Homo sapiens: one gene and its partners. The protein of the gene in region 1 interacts with the protein of each later gene in a biochemical or structural test. Each region holds a gene or a part of one and is shown on either strand. Other genes may lie near its edges.

Region 1 (3,652 bases):
GTCATCCAGGAGTCAGAGAGGTGAGTGGGGAGTTGCTCAGGCACAGCAACTGGGGCTGAGGCCAGAGGAGTGGTGTCGAGGCTGATGCTGGAATCTGAGGAGCTCCCCTTCTCTCCCCGCTCCCGTGCTCCCTTGGCAGGCGGAAGAAGCTCCGTTTCCACCCTCGGCAGTTGTACCTGTCCGTGAAGCAGGGCGAGCTGCAGAAGGTGATCCTGATGCTGTGTGAGTGCCACCCATTCCTTCAGCAGACCTTGACCAAGCTTCATGTATATACCAGGCACTGGGTACAGGGCCAGGAGTACAGTCGTGAAGGACACAGTCCTTGCCCTGAAGGACTTAGTGTGGTGGGGAAAAGACACATGTAACCCATAACGATGGGGATGTGGTGACTCATAGGTGCTGGGTCCTGTTCTGAGTGCTTATACCTGTTAGCCTTGGCTTGCACAGAGAGGTTAGGGACCTTGCACAGTGCACAGTGGTACTGAGAAGCAAGGCAGGGTTTGAATTCAGGCAGAGCTGATGCCTTTGACTCCTTATTCTGATAAATGCTGTGGTGGAGGCAAGCTCGGAGAATGCCAGGAGGGGCCCTGATCCAGCTTGGGGCCCTGAGAAGCCTTCCTGAAAGAAGTGCCACCTGCCCCCTAGCTTGCTTACCACTTGTCCCTCCCTCTCCCGGTGTGGCGGGCTCTCCCCGCAGTGGACAACCTGGACCCCAACTTCCAGAGCGACCAGCAGAGCAAGCGCACGCCCCTGCATGCAGCCGCCCAGAAGGGCTCCGTGGAGATCTGCCATGTGCTGCTGCAGGTCAGCACGGGCCCGGCCCCATGCCTCATTCACCAGGCCCTTAGGCCCCTCCCCTGCCCCATGCCTCCCTGGTGCCAGCCCTCCTGCCCCCTCACAGGCTGGAGCCAACATAAATGCAGTGGACAAACAGCAGCGGACGCCACTGATGGAGGCCGTGGTGAACAACCACCTGGAGGTAGCCCGTTACATGGTGCAGCGTGGTGGCTGTGTCTATAGCAAGGTGTGCGCGCAGGCAGCAGGGCGTGGCCCCCGGAGTCAGGGACCAGGTTTGGGGTGCCAGCCCAAAGGCTCATTTGCCCGTGTCTCCCTCAGGAGGAGGACGGTTCCACCTGCCTCCACCACGCAGCCAAAATCGGGAACTTGGAGATGGTCAGCCTGCTGCTGAGCACAGGACAGGTGGACGTCAACGCCCAGGTCAGCGGCCCACCCAGCCCAGCCCCTCTGGGTCCCTGGTGCCTGGGTTCCTTGGCTTGGCCTCAGGCTTTGGGCCGCCTTTCCTACATCTGACCTCACACTGCTCGTGTCTGTCCTCATTGCTTTCTTCTTCCTCATTTGTATTTCTCTTCATTCTTTTCTTTCTCGTTTCTTTCTCTTTATCAAGTTTCAGAATAATCAGTTCCTGTCTTAATCTCTGAAAGTGTCCAGTGAGGCTTTTTATTAACTCTTGGGTTGTCATACATTGGATGTGTTTTAGTCATTTATTGGCATTCTTCTCAGTCTTTGAATTATTCCATCATTGTCCAGAAGAAGCCCCTTTAAGAGGCCTCTGTGGCTGTGACATGACCCAGTGGCCCAGTGGCCTTTGAGAGCCTCCTGACCTTTCAGCACATTTCCTGCCCCCAACTCAGAATCCACCATTTCTCTAAGAAACTCTGCTTCCTTTATGGGAAACTTTTTTTTTTTTTTTTGAGACGGAGTCTCACTCTGTTGCCCAGGCTGGAGTGCAATGGCGTGATCACAGCTTACTGCAAGCTCCGCCTCCCAGGTTCACGCCATTCTCCTGCCTCAGCCTCCCGAGTAGCTGGGATTACAGGCGCCCACCACCATGCCCGGCTAATTTTTGTATTTTTAGTAGAGACGGGGTTTCACCATATTGGCCAGGCTGATCTTGAACTCCTGACCTCGTGAGCCACAGCGCCCGGCCAGAAGCATTTTTTAGAGAATACAATCTATGTTCCTAGGAGTGTTTATTGTTATTGGGTTGTCGCTGCTTCTAGGACTTTTGAGTGGGCAGACTTAGGAAATTTTTGTTCGTTTTTTCTTTTAAGAGACAGGGTCTTGCTATGTCACCCAGGCTGAAGTACAGTAGCAGTTCACAGACAGTCATAGCTCTCTGCAGCCTCGAAATCCTGGGCTCAAGCAACCCTCCCATCTCAGTCACATGAGTAGCTGGGACTACAGGCATGCACCTCCATGACCAGCTCCTGGCTGTATTTTTTGGAAAGAGAACAATTACTTTATTTTCTCTCTGGCATCAGATGGTAGACGCTACTAGTCCCATTTTTGTTTGTTTGTTTTTTGAGACGGAGTCTTGCTCTGTCGCCCAGGCTGGAGTGCAGTGGCACGATCTTGGCTCACTGCAAGCTCCGCCTCCCGGGTTCACGCCATTCTGCCTCAGCCTCCCTAGTAGCTGGGACTACAGGCGCCTGCCACCACGCCCAGCTAATTTTTTCTATTTTTTAGTAGAGACAGGGTTTCACCGTGTTGGCCACAATGGCCTCCATCTCCTGACCTCGTGATCCGCCCGCCTCGGCCTCCCAAAGTGCTGGGATTACAGGCATGAGCCACCGCGCCCGACCCTACTAGTCCCATTTTTTAGATGAAGAAACTGCGACCCAGAGACGTTAAGTGACTTACCCAGGGTCCCACAGCTTGTGAATGGTGGAGCTGGGATTCACACACACAGCCAATCTTGACCATTTGCTGCTTTGGTGAGCAGGGCCAGCTGCCCCCACCCTCACTCCCTTCCCACCCACAGGACAGTGGGGGGTGGACGCCCATCATCTGGGCTGCAGAGCACAAGCACATCGAGGTGATCCGCATGCTACTGACGCGGGGCGCCGACGTCACCCTCACTGACAACGTGAGTGAGCGTTTGGTTGAGGTAGGGCAGCCCCAGGCCCCTGAGCAAGGTGGAGGCTGGATTCAAGGGCCCAGCTGCCTGCACCTCATCTGTTCCCCTCCTACCTCCACAGGAGGAGAACATCTGCCTGCACTGGGCCTCCTTCACGGGCAGCGCCGCCATCGCCGAAGTCCTTCTGAATGCGCGCTGTGACCTCCATGCTGTCAACTACCATGGGGACACCCCCCTGCACATCGCAGCTCGGGAGAGCTACCATGACTGCGTGCTGTGAGCCCCTGCCCCGCCCTTGATGCCCCTGCCCCCACTTCTTGCAGCCTCAGACCCTGCATTGGGCATCCTGTCCCCTCTTCAGGTTATTCCTGTCACGTGGGGCCAACCCTGAGCTGCGGAACAAAGAGGGGGACACAGCATGGGACCTGACTCCCGAGCGCTCCGACGTGTGGTTTGCGCTTCAACTCAACCGCAAGCTCCGACTTGGGGTGGGAAATCGGGCCATCCGCACAGAGAAGATCATCTGCCGGTGAGCCCTGGGCCCCTCTCTGCACCCAAGACCACCTCCTCCCCACCCATACCCTCCCCAGGCTCCATTGCATCCTCACAACATTCCCCAACCCCTCCCCATGCACCACTGAATCCCCAGAACCACCCACAGGCCCCCTCCCCACTAGGGTTGCCAGATACAGCAAATAAAAATAGAAGACACCCAGTTAAACTGGAATTTCAGATGCACAGATGCATACTTTTTTAGTGTGAGAATGTCCTGTG
Region 2 (3,652 bases), on another chromosome or scaffold:
AGGGCAGCCTCCAGAACAAAGAATTATTTGACCCGAAATGTCAATAGTTCCATGGTTAGTTGAGAGACCCTGTATTACATAAATGTAGAATTCTAGGTTGACTTAAAAAAAAAAAAGGAGAAGAGTGAAAAGTAATTCCAAGAGTCAGAAATGGTAGAAAAGGAGGCACAGATAAATCTTTGGGGAAAATGTAAAGGATGCAAGAATTCTCACTTATTGGAAAGAAAAATGATCAGGCTAAATGGGAAATGATTTGGGCCAAAAGAAATGACATGGCTTCCAACGTCTAGAAATAAGGACCCCAAAGTTATTATTTTTCCTGTTATGTTTAGTTATGTAATAACTATACATAGTTATGGGGTACAAAGATATTTTTGATACATGTATAAAATGTGTAGTGATCAAATGAGGGTAATTAGGCTACCCATCATCCCAAACATGCATCATTTCTTTGTGCTGGGAGCATTCAAAATCCTCTCTCCTAGCTTTTTGAACATACTCAATATATTATTCTTAACTGTTTTCACTCTACAGTGCTATAGAACACTAGAACTTATTCCATCCATCTAGCTATAATTTTGCATCCATTAACCAACCTCTTTCTATGCTCCTCTCCCCACTACCGTTCCTAGCCTCTAATAGCCACAATTCCACTCCCTACTTCTATGAGCTCTTTTCAGGCTGGAGTGCGGTGGTGTGATCTCAGCCCACTGCAACCTCCGCCTCATGAGTTCAAGCAATTCTTGTGCCTCAGCCTCCCGAGTAGCCGGGACTACAGGCACCTGCCACCATGCCGGCTAATTTTTGTATTTTTAGTAGAGACAGGGTTTTGCCATGTTGGCCAGGCTGACCTTGAACTCCTGGTCTCAAGTGATCCGCCCACCTTGGCCTCCCAAAGCACTGGGATTACAGGCGTGAGCCACCCACCACGCCAGGCCGAGCTCCTTTTTTTTTTTTTTTTTTTTTTTTTTAAGAGACAGGGTCTTACTTTGTTGCCCAGGCTGAAGTTCAGTGAAGCTCATTTTTTTAAGCTCCCACATATGAGTAAGAACATGTGGCATTTATCTTTCCGTGTCTGACTTATTTCACTTAACATAATGTCCTCCAAGTTCATACATGTTGCCACAAATAACAGAATTTCATTCTTTTTTATGGCTGAATAGTATTGCACTGTGTATATATACCACATTTTCTTTATCCATTCATCTCTTGATAGACATTTAGGTTGATTCCATATCTTGGCTATTATGTACAGTGCTGCAATAAACATGGCAGTGCAGATATCTCTTCAATAGACTGATTTCCTTTCCTTTGAAAAAATACCCAGTGGTGAGACTGCTAAATCATATGGTAGTTTTATTTTTAGTTTTTTGAGAGGCCCTTATATTGTTTTCTGCAATGGCTGTACTAATTTATATTCTCACCAATAGTGTTTCAGAGTTCCCTTTTCTCCACATCCTCTCAAGCATTTGTTATCTTTTGTCTTTTTGACAATAGCCATTCTAACTGGGGTAAGATCATATCTCATCATGGTTTTGATTTGAATTATCCTGATGATTAATGATGTTGAGCATTTTTTCATATACTTGCTGCCAATTAGTATGTCTTTTGAGAAATGTCTATTCAGATTCTATGTCCATTTTTTAATTGAATTATTTGTTTTGTTTTGTTTTGTTTTGCTGTTGGGTTATTTGCATTCCCTGTATATTCTGGATATTAATTCCTTGTCAGGTGAATAGTTCACAAATATTTTCTCCCATTCTACATCTTGTCTCTTCTCTCTGTTGATTGCTTCCTTTACTGTCCAGAAGCTTTTTAGCTTTGTATAGTCCCATTTGTCTGTTTTTGGTTTTGTTGCCTGTGTTTTCATATCCTTATCCCTAAAATATTTGCCTAGGGGAGTCTCAGAGCCTACTCTGGCTCAGGATCTGCCCAATTTTATTAAATTTATTATAAAATTTAAAAAATTTTAAAAATTAAAATTAAAATAAAAAATAAAACATTTGCCTTGATCAATGACTTGAAGCATTTACACTATATTTTCTTCGGTTGTTTTATAGTTTTGAGTCTTACATTTAAGTCTATAATCCAGTTCGAGTTGATTTTTGTATATGGTGAGAGAGAGGGCTCTAGTCTTAGTCTACCACATATGATTACCACTTTTCCTCGGACCATGTACTGAAGAGGATATCCTTTCCTCAGTGTATGTTCTTGGCACCTTTGTTGAAAATCTGTTGAATGTAAATGTGTGGGTTTAGTTCTGGGTTATCTATTCTGTTTCATTGGTCTATGCATCTGTTTTTATGCCAATACCATGCTGTTTTGGTTACTATAGCTCTGTAGTATGATTTGAAGTTAGGAAGTGTGGTGTCTCTACTAAAAATACAAAAATTAGCCGGGCATGGTGGTGCATGCCTGTAATCCCAGCTACTAGGGAGGCTAAGGGAGGAGAATCACTTTAATCTGGGAGGTGGAGGTTGCAGTGAACTGAGATCACACCATTGCACTCCAGCCTAGGTGACAAGAGTGAGACTCCCTCTCAAAAAAAAAAAAAAAAGATTTAGTGTTAGTTCTTATGGTAGAATTCAGCAGTAAAACCATCCAATTCTGGGCTTTTTTTATTACTGATTCAATCTCATTACATATTATTGGTCTATTCAGGTTTTCTATCTTGGTAGGTTATGTGTGTCCAGGAATTTATCCATTTCCTCTATGTTTTCCAATTTGTTGGCATATAGTTGTTCATAAGAGTCTTTAATGATCTTTTGTATTTCTGTGGTACAGTTGTAATGTCTCCTTTTTCATTTCTGATTTTATTTATTTGGGTCTTCTCTTTTTTTCTTAATCTAGCTAAAGATTTGTCTATTTTGTTTTTCCTCAAAAAATTTTGTTTTGTTGATCTTTTATAATTTTGCCTCAATTTCATTTATTTCTGCTCTGATCTTTATTATTTCTTTCTTTCTACTAATTTTGGATTTAGTTTGTTCTTGCTTTTCTGGTTCCTTGAGGTGCATTCTTAGATTGTTTATTTGAAATCTTTCTGCTTGTTTGATATAGGTGTTTATGGCTATAAACTTCCCTTCTTAACACTGTGTTTGCTTTATTTCATTGATTTTGATATATTATGCTTCCATTTTCATTATTTTCAAGACATTTTTTGCTTTCCTTCTCAATTTCATCATTGACTCACTGGTCATTCAGGAGCATGTTGTTTAATTTCCATGTATTTGTACAGTTTTCCAAAGTTCCTCTTGTTACTGATTTCTAGTTTTATTCCATTGTGGTCTAAGAACATACCTGGTATGATTTCAATTTTTAAGAATTTGTTGAAATTTGTTTTGTGCCCTAACATATGGTCTATTCTGGAGAATGTGCCATGTGCTGATGAGAAGAAGAATGTGTATTCTGTAGCTGTTGGATAAAATGTTGTGTAAATATCTGCGAGGTCCATTTGGTCCAAAGTGCAGTATAAATCCAATGTTTCTTTGTTAATTTTCTGTCTAGATGATCCGTCTAATGCTGAGGGTAGAGTGTTAAAGTCCTGAACATTGTTGTATTGGAGTCTATCTGTTTACATCTAATGATATTTGCTTTATATATCCAGGTGCACTGATGTTGGGTGCGTATATATTTACAATTGTTATATCCTCTT
Region 3 (3,652 bases), about 27 Mb from region 1:
TTGTTGAACTGTCCTCTGCCACAAATTACAGTAAAACCATATTAAAACCTCACTGATTGGGTTTAGAAGTTGTATGCTATTTCTAGTCTTTAAGTGGCTAATTTTGCAGCTATGCATACATGATGTCTAAAGATAGTCAGTATTTAATGGCACTTCTGACAATGTAAAGATTTTACATTCCTTGAACCCTGGTGCATTCCTGAACTCACATGCTACTGCTTTCTTATTGCCCATGAAAAAATCCCTCATCAAATAGAACATTATTATTTTATACAACCTTTCTTTAGATTCACCTCTGACTTCATAGTTTCTTCAATCAGATCGTCCATCTTCTATCTCAGAACTTCCTTCTGGGATTTTTTTTTTTCTTAAGTGTATCCTTTAGAGATTTCTTTAGTGAGGGACTATGGATGGAAAAGTTTCTAGGTTTTTTTTTTTTAATTATTATTATCTGGACATGTCTTTATTTTGCCATCATTTTTTGAAAGAGAATAGTATTTCAAATAAAACCAGTTAATTGGTTAATTTCTTTCAGCTCCTTCTGAAGATGGTGCTCCATTGTCTTCTGCCTTGCCTTTGCACTATTCTTGAGACTTTTTTTTTTTTTTTTGAGGTGGCGTTTCACTCTTGTCGCCCAGGCTGGAGTGCAGTGGCATGATCTTGGCTTACTGTAGCCTCTGCCTCACTGGTTCAAGTGATTCTCCTGCCTCAGCCTTTCAAGTAGCTGGGATTATGGGCATGCACCACCATGCCTGGCTATTTTTTGTATTTTTAGTAGAGATGGGGTTTCACCATGTTGGTCAGGCTAGTCTCGAACTCCTGACATCAAGTGATCCACCCGCCTCAGCCTCCCAGAGTGCTTGGATTACAGGTGTGAGCCACACTGCACCTGGCCAAGACTGTTGTCAGCATAGGTGCAGTCACTTTATAGGAGATCTGTCTTCTGTCTCTGGTTGTTCTTGAGATCATCTCTTTGACTTTGGTTTCCTCTTGTTTAATACGACAATGTATTTTGTGTGATTTTTTATTAGTTAGGTGGGTATATGTTGTGCTGCTTTTTGGATTTGTGCCTCATCAGCTCGAAAATGGATTTGGCCAGTTTGTCTTCAAATACTCCTTCTCTGTACTCGTCAGGAATTCCAAGTAGACATCTATCAGATCATTTCATTCTCTCTTCTTTGTCTTTTACCTTTTCATTTCCATCTCCTTGTTTGTGTTTTGTTTTCTTTTTATGTGCTGCATTTTAGCTATTTCCTTGGATCTAAACTATAGTTCACTAATGAGCTGTGTTTAATCTGCTGTTTTATTCAACCATTGAGTTTTAATTTTCAATAATTACATTTTTTACTTCGAAATATTCTGGGGAGTTTTTACCTAATCTGCAATTCGTTTTTTAAGTCTTTGGTGTTTGTCCATTTTATGATTTAGTCATTATTTTGGGTTGGGGGCAGTTACTGAGGCAGCTGGGATATTTTCCTTGTTTCCTACAATTGCTATATGGTATCACTGTTAATGAGAGTTATATTTTATTAAAGATCTAGTTAATTTGTAATGAGAGGGCCCTTTGGAGTCATGTTTGCTTTATTGCCAGAATCTGAAGAAACCTTCTTGATTTGGAATTTGTGACATGAGCAGGGATTGAGGCTTTGAACCAACACTTGAGATTTACCTGATGATATTGAAAATGCAAAACAGTAGTTTTCAAGAGGACTGTTTATGAAAATGGATTATAATAGTTATAACGCAATTGCTTCTGAAGCAAAATGTTCAATGTCTTTGTTCGGCATGCCTTGATATATAGTCTTGTACCACATAATGATACTTTGGTCTTACGATGGTGGTCCCGTAAGATTATAATACCACATTTTTACTGTACCTTTTCTATGTTTAGATACACAAGTTGATATGGTTTGGCTGTGTCCTCACCCAGATCTCATTTGGAATTGTAGCTCCCATAATTCCCACGTACCATGGGAGGGACCCTGTGGGAGGTAGTTGAATCGTGGGGTGGATCTTTCCCTTGCTGTTCTCCTGATAGTGAGTCTCATGAGATCTCATGGTTTGATAAAAAGGAGTTCCCCTGCACAAGCTCTCTTGCCTGCCACCATGTAACGTGTGACCTTGCTCCTCATTCACCTTCCTCCATGATTGTGAGGCCCCCCCAGCCATGTGGAACTGAGTTAATTAAACTCGTTTCCTTTATAAATTACCCGGTCTCGGGTATGTCTTTATTAGCAATGTGAGAATGGACTAATACACAAGTCCTCACTATTGTGTTAAAATTGCCTACAGTGTTCAGTACAGTAACATCTGTACAGGTCTGTAGCCTGGAAGCAATAGGCTCTACCATACAGCCTAGGTGTGTAGTAGGCTACAACATTGATGTTTGTGTAAGTTCACTCTGTGAGGTTCGCACAGCAGTGAAATTGCCTAACAACGCATTTCTGAGAACATATCACTGTAGTTAAGCAACGTGTGACCGTATAGTATACTTTCTTTTTTGTGGAGAGGTTAGCTTCAATATATCTAGAGAATGTCTTTTATTTACTTTTTGTCTTATTTCCATTTGTAGTAGGCTCTCTGCTATGTGAAGTTTTCTTTGTTGGTAGCTTCCTAGTGTTTGTTGTTAAAACCCAACAATGTTGACTGCACATCATGAATGTTCTTTGGTTAAAATGTATCCGTTTTTCACTTGTACCCATTTTTCATTAGTAGTTTACTGTTTAGGAATTCAAGGCATCACATAGTTGCACACAGAAGCTTTTCTTATTTTATTAATAGCATGTAACTAATGTGGATATCCCAGCTCTTTAGTGTATCTCAGAACCAGGACAAAAAAAGTCATCTTAGTTTGCAAAAAGATGCACCACCCCATGCACACTGGACAACAGCTCTGGGTCTCTCTTGGAGACTGTTGACATTTCCTTTAGGCATTATGTACTTGGACTTGACTGGCACCTTTAGCATGTTAGAAACAGGTTATTTGGTAAAGGAAAAGGCTCTGCCAGAGGCAGGTGAATTGACGTTAATAAGTTTGTTCATGAAGTTCGCTGAAGAGGGTAGCTGGTGATGGCACTCCAAGTCTTGAGGTGACAGGCTCCGTGGGGCCAGTCCTGCGCCCCTTAGAGCAAGTGAAGGGCATGCTTATGAAAGAAAAGGCATATGTTGCAAAGAGCTATCAAGAAGAGTTTTTAAAAAGTGTTGCTATGTAAGTGTAAGCGAAAAAATTAAGTCTACTTTTATGGTAAACTTAAACATAAATTTTATGGTCATTTCCACCCAAGTTCTCCAGACGGCAGAGGAGTCAGCAGGAATTCTCCTAAGGAGGTGGAGGTGGGAGGGAGGAGGAAATGGCCTTTGCAAGCCTGACCTGTTGTTTGAAATCTCAAGTTACCTTACATGTTTTATGATATTAACCATGTAGTCCATACAATTTTTGGGATTCAATATGAAATATTTTAAACATATTTACCAAGGAGCTCTTCTCCAGAGATCCTTGATTTAGGCTGATGTTTCAGGAAGCTGAGCTGTGGATTAGTGGCCCTGTGTGCCCTTGGTCTCTTGCTGTGTGTGTGTACTCTGGCTTCAGAAGCAGAGACGGACTGTGTTACCTTCCATAATGATGCCGGGTAAAGGAGGCATTAGCTGATCT

Evidence for each region.
Region 2: the proteins of EHMT2 (region 1) and ACSM3 are reported together in a solved structure, tested with the Homo sapiens proteins (one study listed by BioGRID).
Region 3: the proteins of EHMT2 (region 1) and CDYL form a complex in vitro, tested with the Homo sapiens proteins (one study listed by BioGRID).

Annotation. Positions count from the first base shown.
Region 1 is NC_000006.12:31,884,147-31,887,798, reverse strand, and holds part of EHMT2 (histone-lysine N-methyltransferase EHMT2), read left to right. Parts: coding exon 1-20; intron 21-139; coding exon 140-222; intron 223-697; coding exon 698-804; intron 805-901; coding exon 902-1,024; intron 1,025-1,116; coding exon 1,117-1,218; intron 1,219-2,743; coding exon of another isoform or gene 2,744-2,782; coding exon 2,783-2,887; coding exon of another isoform or gene 2,888-2,908; intron 2,909-2,999; coding exon 3,000-3,154; intron 3,155-3,239; coding exon 3,240-3,407; intron 3,408-3,594; exon of another isoform or gene 3,595-3,652. UniProt on the Homo sapiens protein: Histone methyltransferase that specifically mono- and dimethylates 'Lys-9' of histone H3 (H3K9me1 and H3K9me2, respectively) in euchromatin.
Region 2 is NC_000016.10:20,770,427-20,774,078, forward strand, and holds part of ACSM3 (acyl-coenzyme A synthetase ACSM3, mitochondrial), read left to right. Parts: intron 1-3,652. UniProt on the Homo sapiens protein: Catalyzes the activation of fatty acids by CoA to produce an acyl-CoA, the first step in fatty acid metabolism. Capable of activating medium-chain fatty acids with a preference for isobutyrate among fatty acids with 2-6 carbon atoms.
Region 3 is NC_000006.12:4,782,824-4,786,475, forward strand, and holds part of CDYL (chromodomain Y-like protein), read left to right. Parts: intron 1-3,652.